Linked DNA regions of Homo sapiens. The protein of the gene in region 1 interacts with the protein of each later gene in a pairwise test. Each region holds a gene or a part of one and is shown in the gene's direction. Other genes may lie near its edges. The genes, in order: FAM156A, TEX11 and ATRIP.

Region 1 (3,652 bases):
GGAGGTTGCAGTGAGCTGAGATCATGCCACTGCACTCCAGCCTGGGCGACACAGTGAGACTGTCTCAAAAAAAAAAAAAAAAGTCCATATTTAATTGGGATTATTAAATGAAATCTGTATCTTTAAACTGAAATAAATGCATTTTATTATCTCATATTATTGTGGAAGATTGAAAAAAGCATCACATGGGACTGGCTTAATTTTGAAAAGAAACACAAAGCTCTTCCTGGCGCTCATCTGCAGGGTGTCGTCTGGATTCACTTGCTTAGCTGTTCTCTTTCTCCTTCCGCACAGGAGAATTGAAGCGAATGAGAGTGGGGAGTGTGAGAGGTGCGTTTGGTGCAGCATTTCTGGCATGGGAACAGAACTGGCCAGGAGGAAGTGACGGTAAGGATTCGCAGCATTGCACCCGATCCCCGGGCAGCTGTGGACATGCGGGTCAGCCCCTAGGACTCTGCTGTCTGAACTCTTCCCTCAGGATTACTTTCTCGCTTAGGTATCAGGGGAGGCTGAACACCCAGAGAGGCAATGCCACCAGGGGTGTGTTCATCTGCAGTCAGGGAGACCTGGGAGGGAATTCTGTCCCTGAGTGGTTGTGTGATCTGAGGGAAGTTACTTGACCTCTCCATGCAGGAATTTCTGCCTTTGCAACGTGGGAAAATATGGATTCTGCAGGGTTGACTTGACATTCTCAGTGAGATGTTTATCACGGGCCCCACATCCTTCTTGTTTCATTTGATAGATATTTGTGAATGTCCACTGGGCTCAAGGCTCTGTGATGGGTGAACAAGACAAAGTCCCTGGCCTCTGTCAGCTCCTGGGCTAGTGGGTTGACAGAGAAATAACCATCTGTTGACAGCTGAGTGGGATTGGGGCTGGGACAGGGGAAATACAGGGCGTTTTAGGAGCTTGGAGAAGGCTTCCTGGGAGAAGTGCTATCTCAGCTGAGTCATGCAGGGTGAATGAGAGGTGAAAGTCTTGCCAAGGGCCATGGCAGTCCCAAACTACAGGCACCCATCACTATACCCGGCTAATTTTTATTTTTAGTAGAGATGGGGTTTCACCCCGGTGGCCAGGCTGCTCTCGAACTGCTGACCTCAAGTGATCCACCCGCCTCAGCCTCCCGAAGCAGGGATTACAGGCGTGAGCCACTGTGCCCAGCGTGATTGTAAATGTTAATCATGTCCACAAATACCTTCCCAGCAACAACTAGAGTAGCATTTGACCAAAAGGGACCAGGCACCAAGCCTGGCCGAGTTGACCGATAAAACCATCACAGTGAGGGATTGGTACCCAGAGACATCACCTCTCATGCTGAAGGTCTGACCGGTAAACTGTCTGGGTTCCCTGTCTCCAGTAGTCCTTCTCTCTCTTCGGTAGCTGCATGACATGATGCAGGAAACTTGAGGCTGTGGTGTTTCATGCAGAGATTTTTGATACAAGGTCTTTTACCTGGGGGCAAGTGCCTGTTGAAGAAATGACATTGGTGAGATGATGAAGGAAGGGAAGTCACATGTATTGCTGCAGCTGCTCCCCTCCGCACACACAACGGACTTCTCTAGGCCTCACTGTCCTTAATGCCTCTGTCAGGGATCATGAGCAACTCCATGGGTGTGGTTTGAGAATCTCTGGATGAACCTACACATAGGACGGTAAAATGTTTCATTTCACAAAATTGCTGGAGGGAGAAAGAGAGAAAAGAGAGCGATGACTATGCAGGCCGGTTGTCAGTTGATGTCTCCAGAATCTTCCTATTTCTTTTTTTTCTTTTTCTTTTTTTTTTTTTTTTTTTTTTTTTTTTTGAGACAGAGTCTTGCTCCGTTGCCCAGACTGGAGTGCAGTGGTGCAATCTCGGCTTACTGCAACCTCCGCCTCCTGGGTTCAAGTGATTCTCCTGCCTCAACCTCTCTATTACCTGGGATTACAGGTGCCCACCACCACACCCAGCTAATTTTTTTGTATTTTCCGTAGAGATGGCGTTTCGCCATGTTGGCCAGGCTGGTCTCAAACCCCTGACCTCAGGTGATCTGCCTGCCTCGGCCTTCCAAAGTGCTGGGATTGCAGGCATGAGCCACCACACCCGGCTCACATTTCTTCTCATAAAAGTGTTTCTGGCTGGGAACAGTGGCTCACGCCTATAATCCCAGCACTCTGGGAGGCTGAGGCATGCAGATCATGTGGAGCTCAGGAGTTCCAGACCAGCCTAGGCAACATGGCAAAACCCCGTCTCTACAAAAAATACAAAAATTAGCCGGGCATGGTGGCTCACGCCTGTAGTGCAAGCTGCTCAGGCGTCTGAGACTGGAGGATCCCTTGAGCCCAGGAAGCAGAGGTTTCAATGAGCCGAGGTTTTGCCACTGCACACCAGACTAGGTAACAGAGCGAGTCCCTGCCTCAAACAAACAAACAAAACAGCAAAAGAAACGTGGGGGGTGGGGGTCGTAAGGTCTTTTCTCTCTCTGAGAATTGGCTTTCTACATGTAGAAATAGATCCTGAGAGAGTCCTTGTGACACATGAGAATTGGCTGGGAGATAATTGGGTTAAGATCATTTTCCAAACGTTTCACACATTAACTGTTTGTGTCAGATAGTGGTGGCCCAAAGGATGTCAGGGAACTAACTCGTAGGAAAGATAGATTGCAATTTCTGAAAAGTTAAGAACTCTTTCTGGGATGTGTGTGTGTGTGTGTTTATATATGTTTGTGTTCAGTACATATTCAAACTGTTCCTGTTACGGTTCTGTCTTTCTTGCCCCAGTGTGGGCTGATAGCCACGATTTGGTGAATAAACATTCAGAGGACCAGTATCCTCTGAAGAAAACTAGTGAATTCTTGGTTTCCACGTTTGTCAAAAGAATAGAGCCTGGGAGGCTGATCTAAAGTTTCCATTTAGCATTTAATGTCAATTTTTGGTTGCACTCATCCAAGATGTATTTATCAAAACAGTACAGAGAGATACCCTTATCGCAAAATATGCCGTTGGGTTTTTCCACTTAACCTACAGCAAGATTGACTTTTTTCCCTCAGGAGTACAGTTCTGTGAGCTTTGACACGGGCATACATTCTTGTCACCACCACCACAGTCGGGATCCAGAACAGTCCCATCACCGCAGGACACTCCCTGGAACTGCCCCATTGCGGTTACCCCTTCTTCATCCATCATCCCTGGTGTAAAGTGATCTGTTTCCTTCCCTCTAGTTTTGTCTTGGGGAGAGTGTTATGTCAATGACACCATACAGTTTGTGGCCTTGTGAGGCGGGCTTCCTTCTTTTGGCCCGATGAACATCTCGGATGAGTGTCAGATGCCTCTGTCACAGGCTGTTGTTTTTTCATGAAGGCAGTTTCACGGTGTGGAAGACCACAGGTGTTCAGCCATCCTTCTACTGAATGACATTTTCCTCTGTCCAGTGTGGGGCAGTTTCGCATCGAGCTGCTTTTACAATTCAGTGCGGGCTTTTTTGTGAACCTAAGTTTTCATTTCTCTAGGGTAGATACCCAGGAGTGGGATGGCTGGGTCCTATGGTAAACATCTGTTTGACTTACAAGAAACTGCCAAACTGCTTCTCAAAGTTGCTGTGCTATTTCGCCCTCCCAGCTGCAAAGTGTGAGAGTTCCAGTCACCCAACATGTTCTCGCTTGGCCTTGCCAGTCTC
Region 2 (3,652 bases), about 18 Mb from region 1:
CAATGATTTCTTTCCTTATGGGATGAGTTTTCTCTTTTTGATTTTCAGCAAATGTATGCACAACTTGGTTAACCTCTCAGTGCCAGATGGGGCGTCGAATGTAGAGCTCTGTCCCCTGGAAGAAGTTTGGGGCTATTTTGAAGATGCTCTGAGCCACATTAGCCGCACTGTAAGTCAAATAGTGATATTAAACTTTCAGTTAATTTTAAAGAACTGAACTGTCTTGTGTACTATAAATTATATACAATAATGCTTTCTGATATGAGTTTTAGGATAAATTCATATTACAATTTTGTAGTTACACACTACAGAATTTTCCTGGGTTTCTGAAATATAAATAGTTGAAAGTAGACATTTTCTAACACAAGTGTATTATGGATTAGGTCCAAGTAGCAGTACCACCAGGCATTTTGAATTATTTTATATTTTCAAATCATGGTGGGATGATTACTTTCTCTGTGATGATATGAACCTTTTGAAAAAAGTTATTGCTATTCCCATCCTTTCTCAGAAGCATCCTTTCTCAGAAGAGTAGAAGGAACATTGAAGACCTGTATTCTAGTCCCTCCTCTGCTGATTTCTTTTTCTTTTCTGTGCAGGTTTATTCAGTTGTTTTAAAATTAGGTTTCTTGAGGTATAATTCACATATCATAAAATTCACCCATGGCTTGTGCACAATTCAGTAAATTTATAGAGTTGTGCAACTATCACTACAATCCAGTGTTTTTTAGTTTTAAAAATGTTTTATTTTTAATTTTTGTGGGTACATAGCGGTGTACATGTACCCATACTTATGGGGTACATGAGATTTTTTGGTACAGGCATATAATGCATAATAATCATATCAGGATAAATGGGGTATCCATCACCTCAAGCATTTATCCTTTGTGTTACAAGCAATTCAATTATACTTTTAGTTTTTTAAAATGTACAATTAAATTATTGTTGATTATAATCACCCTGTTGTGCTATTAAGTACAGATCTTATTCATTCTATTTTTTGTACCTATTAACCATTTCCACATTTCCCCCACCCCTCCTCTGGTAACCATCACTCTACTCTTTCTCTCCCCAGCAGTTCAATTATTTTAATTTTTAGCTTTCACAAATAAGTGAGAACATGTGAAGTTTGTTTTTTGTGTGTGTGCTGGGCTTATTTCACTCAACATACTGACCTCCAGTTCCATCCATGTTGTTGCAAGTGACTGGATCTTATTTTTTTTATGGCTGAATAGTACTCCATTGTGTATAGGTACCACATTTTCTTTATCCATTCATCTGTTGATGGACACTTAGGTTGCTTGCAAATCTTAGCTATTGTAAACAGTGCTGCAACAAACATAGGAGTGCAGATACCTCTTTGATATACTGATTTCCTTTCTTTTGGGTATATATCCAGTAGTGGGATTGCTGGATCATACGGTAACTCAATTTTTCGTATTTTGAGGAACCTCCGAACTGTTCTCCATAGTGGTTGTACTAATTTACTTTCCCACCAACAGTGTGCAAGGGTTCCCTTTTCTCCACATCCTCACCAGCACTTCCTATTATTGCCTGTCATTTGGATATAAGCCATTTTAACTGGGGTGAGATGATATCTCACTGTAGTTTTGATTTGCAGTTCTCTGATGATCAGTGATAGTAAGTACCTTTTCATATGCCTGTTTGCCATTTGTTTGTCTTCTTTTGAGAAATGTCTATTCAGATATTTTCCTTATTTTAAAACTCGATTATTAGATTTTTTTTCCTATAGAGTTGTTTGAGCTCTGTATATATTCTGGTTATTAATCCCTTATCAGAGGGGTAGTATGTAAATATTTTCTCTCATTCTGCAGGTTGTCTCTTCACTTTGTTGATTGTTTCCTTTGCTGTGCAGAAGCTTTTTAGCTTGATGTGATCCCATTTGTCCATTTTTGATTTGGTTGCCCATACTTGTAGGATATTGCTCAAGGAATCTTTGCCTACTCCAATATCCTGGAGAGCTTTCCCAATATTTTCTTGTAGTAGTTTCATAGTTTGAGGTGTTCGATTTAAGTCTTTAATCCATTTTGATTTGATCTTTGTATAAGGCAAGACATAGGGATCTCAACTTTCCTCCTTCTGCATATGGATATCCAGTTTTCCCAGCACCATTTATTGAAGAGACTCTTCTTTCCCCAAAGTATGTTCTTGGCACCTTTGTCAAAAATGAGTTCACTGTAGATGTATGGATTTATTTCTGGGTTTGCTATTCTGTTCCACTATGTTGAGCTGCCTGGGGCTGGAGGAGGGGTGATACAAGCACCCTTGTGGCCACTGCCACTGGGACTGTGCTGGTCAGACCTGAAGCCAGCACAGCACTGGGTCTCACCCAAGGCCCACTGTAACCACTACCTGGCTACCACCTATGTTTGCTCAATGCCTTAGGGCTCTACAGTCAGCAGGTGATGAAGCCAGCCAGGCTGTCCTTCCCTTCAGGGCAGCAACTTCCCCCTGGCCCCAGAGATGACATGCAGGAGCCAGGGCCTGGAGTCAGAAACCCTAGAAATCTACCTAGTGCTCTATTCTACTGCAGCTTAGCTGGTATCCAAACCACAAGACAAAGTCCTTCCCACTCTTTCCTCTTTCCACACGCAGAAGAGTCTCTCCCCGTGGCCACCACCATCAGGTGGTGTGGGGAGTTCTGCTGGGCTACTGCCAGTGTTCACTTAAGGCCCAAGGGCTCTGCAATCAGCTTGTGGTGAATGCTGCCAGGCCTGGGACTCATACTTCAGAGAAGTGGGCTCCTCTCTGGCCCAGGACAGGTACAGAAATGCCATCCAAGAGCCAAGGCCTGGAACCGGGGACCCTAGGAGCCCACTTGGTGCTCTAACCCACTGTGGCTGAGTTGATATCTAAGCTGCAATACAAAATCCTCTTTACTCTTCCCTCTGCTTTTCTCAAGCAGAAGGAGTCTCTCCTCATAGCCACCACAGCTGGGAATGTACTGGGTCACAACTGAAGCCAGCATGTCTCAGAGTCTCACCTAAGGCCCACAGTATGTACTACCTGGCTACTGCTGCTGATCACTGAGGGCCAAAGTGCTATTTAGTCAGCAGGTGATGAATCCTGCCGAGACTGGGTCCTTCCCTTCAAGGCAGTGGGTACCTTTTAGCCCGAGGTGTGTCTCAAAATGTTATCTGGGAACTAGGTCCTGGAATGGGACCTTCATGACTATGCCAAGTGCCCTGTCCTACTGTGGCTGAGCTGGTATCCAAGATGCAAGACAAAGTCCCCCTTAAGCTTCCCTCTCCTCTCCTCTAGTGGAAGGAAGGGGTCTGTTTTGGAGCTGCAAACTGCACTGCCTGGGGTTGAGGGAGGGGTCGTGCAATCACTCCCTTGGCTGCCCTGGCTGGTGTCTCACTAGGTCGCATGTCCCCCAGATGCACTGGCTCCAAGCCCAGCACAGCACAAAGATTTGCCCAGGAGTTGCAGTCCTTGTGGCCTAGACTGCCTCTCAAATTTATTTAGAACCCCAGAGCACTTTAGCTCTCAGTGGCAAGGCTTGTTGGAACTCAAGTTCCAACTACTGGGATGGACAATTGCTCTCTAGCTAGGGCTGGTCTAAATACTCCCTCCATGAGCATCAGTTGAGTTCTGCCCAGTGTTACTTTCTGCTGTGACAGGGCAGCAC
Region 3 (3,652 bases), on another chromosome or scaffold:
GCCCAGGAGGTCAAGGCTGCAGTGAGCTATGATCATGCTACTGTACTCCAGCCTGGGCAATGGAACAAGACTCTGTCTCAAAAAAAAATGTTTTGGTGGAATTGTAAATAGTGATAATAAAGAATAGTAAAGGAATTATGGCTAATATTATATTTTTGGATGATTAGAAAAATATAAAAATGAGTAAAAGAATTTTCAATAATTTGGATCAAAATCCCTGGAATTAGCCAGTAACAGTGGATCATGCCTGTAATCCCAGCATTTTGGGAGGCCAGAGTGGGTGGATCACTTGAGCTCAGCAGTTCCAGACCAGCCTGGGTAACTTAGTGAATCCCCATCTCTATAGAGAAATTAAAATTTTAAAATATTTTTAAAAAGAAAAACAAATGCCTGGAATTTTGCACTGCTCCTCTGACAAAGAATGGTAGACATATAATAGATAAAACCTTTGGTTAAAACACCTAGACATGAAAAGTTTAAAGTTTGTTAGAAATTTTGTAACCAGATATTTTGAATGGTTTTAGTAGAATCATTACTTTGCTTTCATAGTTAACTTTTTCCAGTCCTAGGAAAAACCCTTCTGTGGTTATAAAGCCAGAAGCATGTTCTCCACAATTTGGAAAAACATCTTTTCCTACAAAGGAGTCTTTTAGTGCTAACATGTCCCTTCCCCACCCCTGCCAGACGGAGTCAGGATACAAGCCTCTGGTGGGCAGAGAGGGTAAGTCCATTAGTCATCTATTGATGTATAACAAGCTACCCAAATATGTGGCTTAAAACAATTATTATTTATTTTCTCCCAATTTCTGTGATCAGCAATTCTGACAAGGCACAGAGGGGACAATCTCTGCAGGGACTGGAATCACTGAAAGCTTGTCTTAAGCTGGAGGATCTATTTCAAGGTGGCTCACTCACATGGCTGGCAGTGTAATTTCTTGCCACATGGGCCTCTGCACATGGATATGGGGTATCCTCTTAACCTGGTGGGTGGCTTCCTCTAAAGCTAGCAAATCCAGAGAGAGCGAGCCAGGCAGAAGCTATCCATTTATGGCCTAGCCTCAGAAGTCACACAGCATCCCCTCTGCCACATTGTATTTGTTAGAAGCAAATCACTGAGTCTGGGCGTCATTCAAGGGGAGAAACCAAGCTTATACCTTTTTTTTAATTTTTATTTTTTATTTTTATTTTATTATTATACTTTAAATTTTAGGGTACATGTGCACAACGTGCAGGTGTGTTACGTATGTATACATGTGCCATGTTGGTGTGTTGCACCCATTAACTCGTCATTTAGCATTAGGTATATCTCCTAATGCTATCCCTCCCCCCTCCTCCCAAGCTTATACCTTTTGAAGGGGAGTTGTGTCAAAGCATTTGTGGGCCTTTTTTTTTTTTTTTTTGAGGCGGAGTCTCACCCTGTCACCCAGGCTGGAGTGCAATGGCACGATCTCAGCTCACTGCAACTTCCGCCTCCCGGGTTCAAGTGATTCTCCTGCCTCAGACTCCCGAATAGCTGGGATTACAGGCACCTGCCATCATGCTTGTGGGCATATTTTTAAACCATCACAGCATCAATTGACCATGCCAAAAACCTAGCTAGTATGCAGGAATCTGTTTTTCTTTTCTTGTTTTTTTTTTTTTTCTTTGAGGCGGAGTCTCACTCTGTCACCAGGCTGGAGTGCAGTGGCGTGATCTCGGCTCACTGTAACCTCTGCCTCCCATGTTCAAGCGATTCTCCTGCCTCAGCCTCCCGAGTAGCTGGGACTACAGGCATGCGCCACCACACCCAGCTAATTTTTGTATTTTTAGTAGAGACAGGTTTCACCATGTTGGCCTGGATGGTCTCAATCTCATGACCTCGTGATCCACCCACTTCAGCCTCCCAAAATGCTGGGATTACAGGCATGAGCCACCGTGCCCAGCCTCTGTTTTCCTTTTGTAGTCCAGCTTTTGAGTTTTTATAACTCAGTCCAGATTGAGGGGATCTGCTGTTTTTTAGAGAGAGACAATCTAACATCAGTAGGTTTTCAGACTGCTATGTCAGTGTATCTTATAAATCGGATACATTGACCCTCTTCTTACCATCAACCTTTCAAATCCTTGGCCATCATAACACTTCTGAGAAACTGTAGCCCACTTACATTTTTGGCATCTAGCAGCTAAAGGGGCAGTGTACAGTAGTGTTACAAGCAGGCAGTAGAGCCCAGTAGCCTGGATGTGAGTCCCAGTAATGCTGTTAACTGGCTTATATGATTTGGGCAAGTCCTTTAGTCTCTGTGCCTCAGTTTCCCTATATGTAAAACAGACCTAATGATAAATCCTTGTAGGGTCACTGAGGAACAAATGGGCTGATGCGTATAGAGCTCTTAAAACACTGTCTAGCACGTAACAAGCACCATGTCAATGTTAGTGGTCACTGTTTTATCTAATTGCCTCATTTTGAGTGAGGCAAACAGCTTGATTTTCTTTTCCTTTCCTTGTATGAGTTCCTGTTTTACATAAGGAAGGTAAAAGATGCAGGGCTCTTGAGCCGCTTTGGCTCTTGTTTGTTCCAAGTTCGAAGAAGTAGAACAGCGTGTGTTTTAAACTCATTGCATGTAAAAGTTTCTAATATGCCCATGCTTCTGGGCTCAAGTTTTGATTTACATTTTATCACATTTCAGATAGTAAGCCCCACAGTCTGAGAGGTGACTCCATAAAACAAGAAGAGGCCCAGAAAAGCTTTGTTGACAGCTGGAGACAGAGATCAAACACTCAAGGTACCAGAATCCCTGCTTCTCCTGCAGGGGCCTGCATGGCTCTGAGTAATATGCAGAAGAATTGCCCAGGCCTCTGAGAACCGGTGCCCCGGGCAGTCCTTCAGAGAGTCCAGGGAAGTCAAAGTATGTGGCTTAAGCAGAAGACTTTATAAAGTGGAAAGGGCCAAGGGCAGGTATGTCCCAGAGCCTTCCGCACCCACAGGCATCTTCCTGGGGCTTAGTGGCAGCCTAGAGGACAGTTGGCATCCAAAGAATCCTTACTGTTTCCTTCTGAAAGCCACCGAAAAGATCTCCCATGTCAGAACCTTCTAGAGTCATCTTGTCTTCTGCAGGTTCCATTTTGATAAACCTGCTCCTGAAGCAGCCTTTGATCCCAGGGTCATCCCTAAGCCTTTGCCACCTCCTGAGTAGTAGTTCTGAGTCTCCTGCTGGCACCCCCCTGCAGCCACCAGGGTTTGGCAGGTAAGCATAAGACTCCTGGAAAGCTTGTTTGGGAAGGAGCTTCCTGGAAGCAAATTCCTTTCTGGCCCTGGCCAGCCTGAGAAGTCTGTGGGAAGGGCAGGCAGCCTGGAGAATTTGGCAGGCAGGCTGTTTGGGGCTCTTGACCTTATCTCCATCCCACACTTAATCTATTTTTCTTTGTGTTTGTTGCCAGTACCTTGGCTGGAATGTCAGGCCTCAGGACCACAGGTTCTTATGATGGGTCATTTTCCCTCTCAGCCCTGAGAGAAGCACAGAACCTGGCATTCACTGGACTGAATCTGGTTGCCCGGAATGAGTGCTCACGTGATGGAGACCCAGCAGAGGGAGGCAGAAGGGCCTTCCCACTCTGCCAGCTTCCTGGAGCCGTGCATTTCCTCCCCCTTGTACAGTTCTTCATCGGCTTACACTGC

Evidence for each region.
Region 2: the proteins of FAM156A (region 1) and TEX11 interact in binary tests that used the Homo sapiens proteins (3 or more experiments, as listed by UniProt).
Region 3: the proteins of FAM156A (region 1) and ATRIP interact in binary tests that used the Homo sapiens proteins (3 or more experiments, as listed by UniProt).

The regions. Positions count from the first base shown.
Region 1 is NC_000023.11:52,951,889-52,955,540, reverse strand, and holds part of FAM156A (protein FAM156A/FAM156B), read left to right. Parts: intron 1-294; 5' UTR 295-387; intron 388-3,652.
Region 2 is NC_000023.11:70,548,643-70,552,294, reverse strand, and holds part of TEX11 (testis-expressed protein 11), read left to right. Parts: intron 1-48; coding exon 49-169; intron 170-3,652. UniProt on the Homo sapiens protein: Regulator of crossing-over during meiosis. Involved in initiation and/or maintenance of chromosome synapsis and formation of crossovers.
Region 3 is NC_000003.12:48,456,696-48,460,347, forward strand, and holds part of ATRIP (ATR-interacting protein), read left to right. Parts: intron 1-563; coding exon 564-721; intron 722-2,663; coding exon 2,664-2,759; intron 2,760-3,091; coding exon 3,092-3,221; intron 3,222-3,414; coding exon 3,415-3,652. UniProt on the Homo sapiens protein: Required for checkpoint signaling after DNA damage. Required for ATR expression, possibly by stabilizing the protein.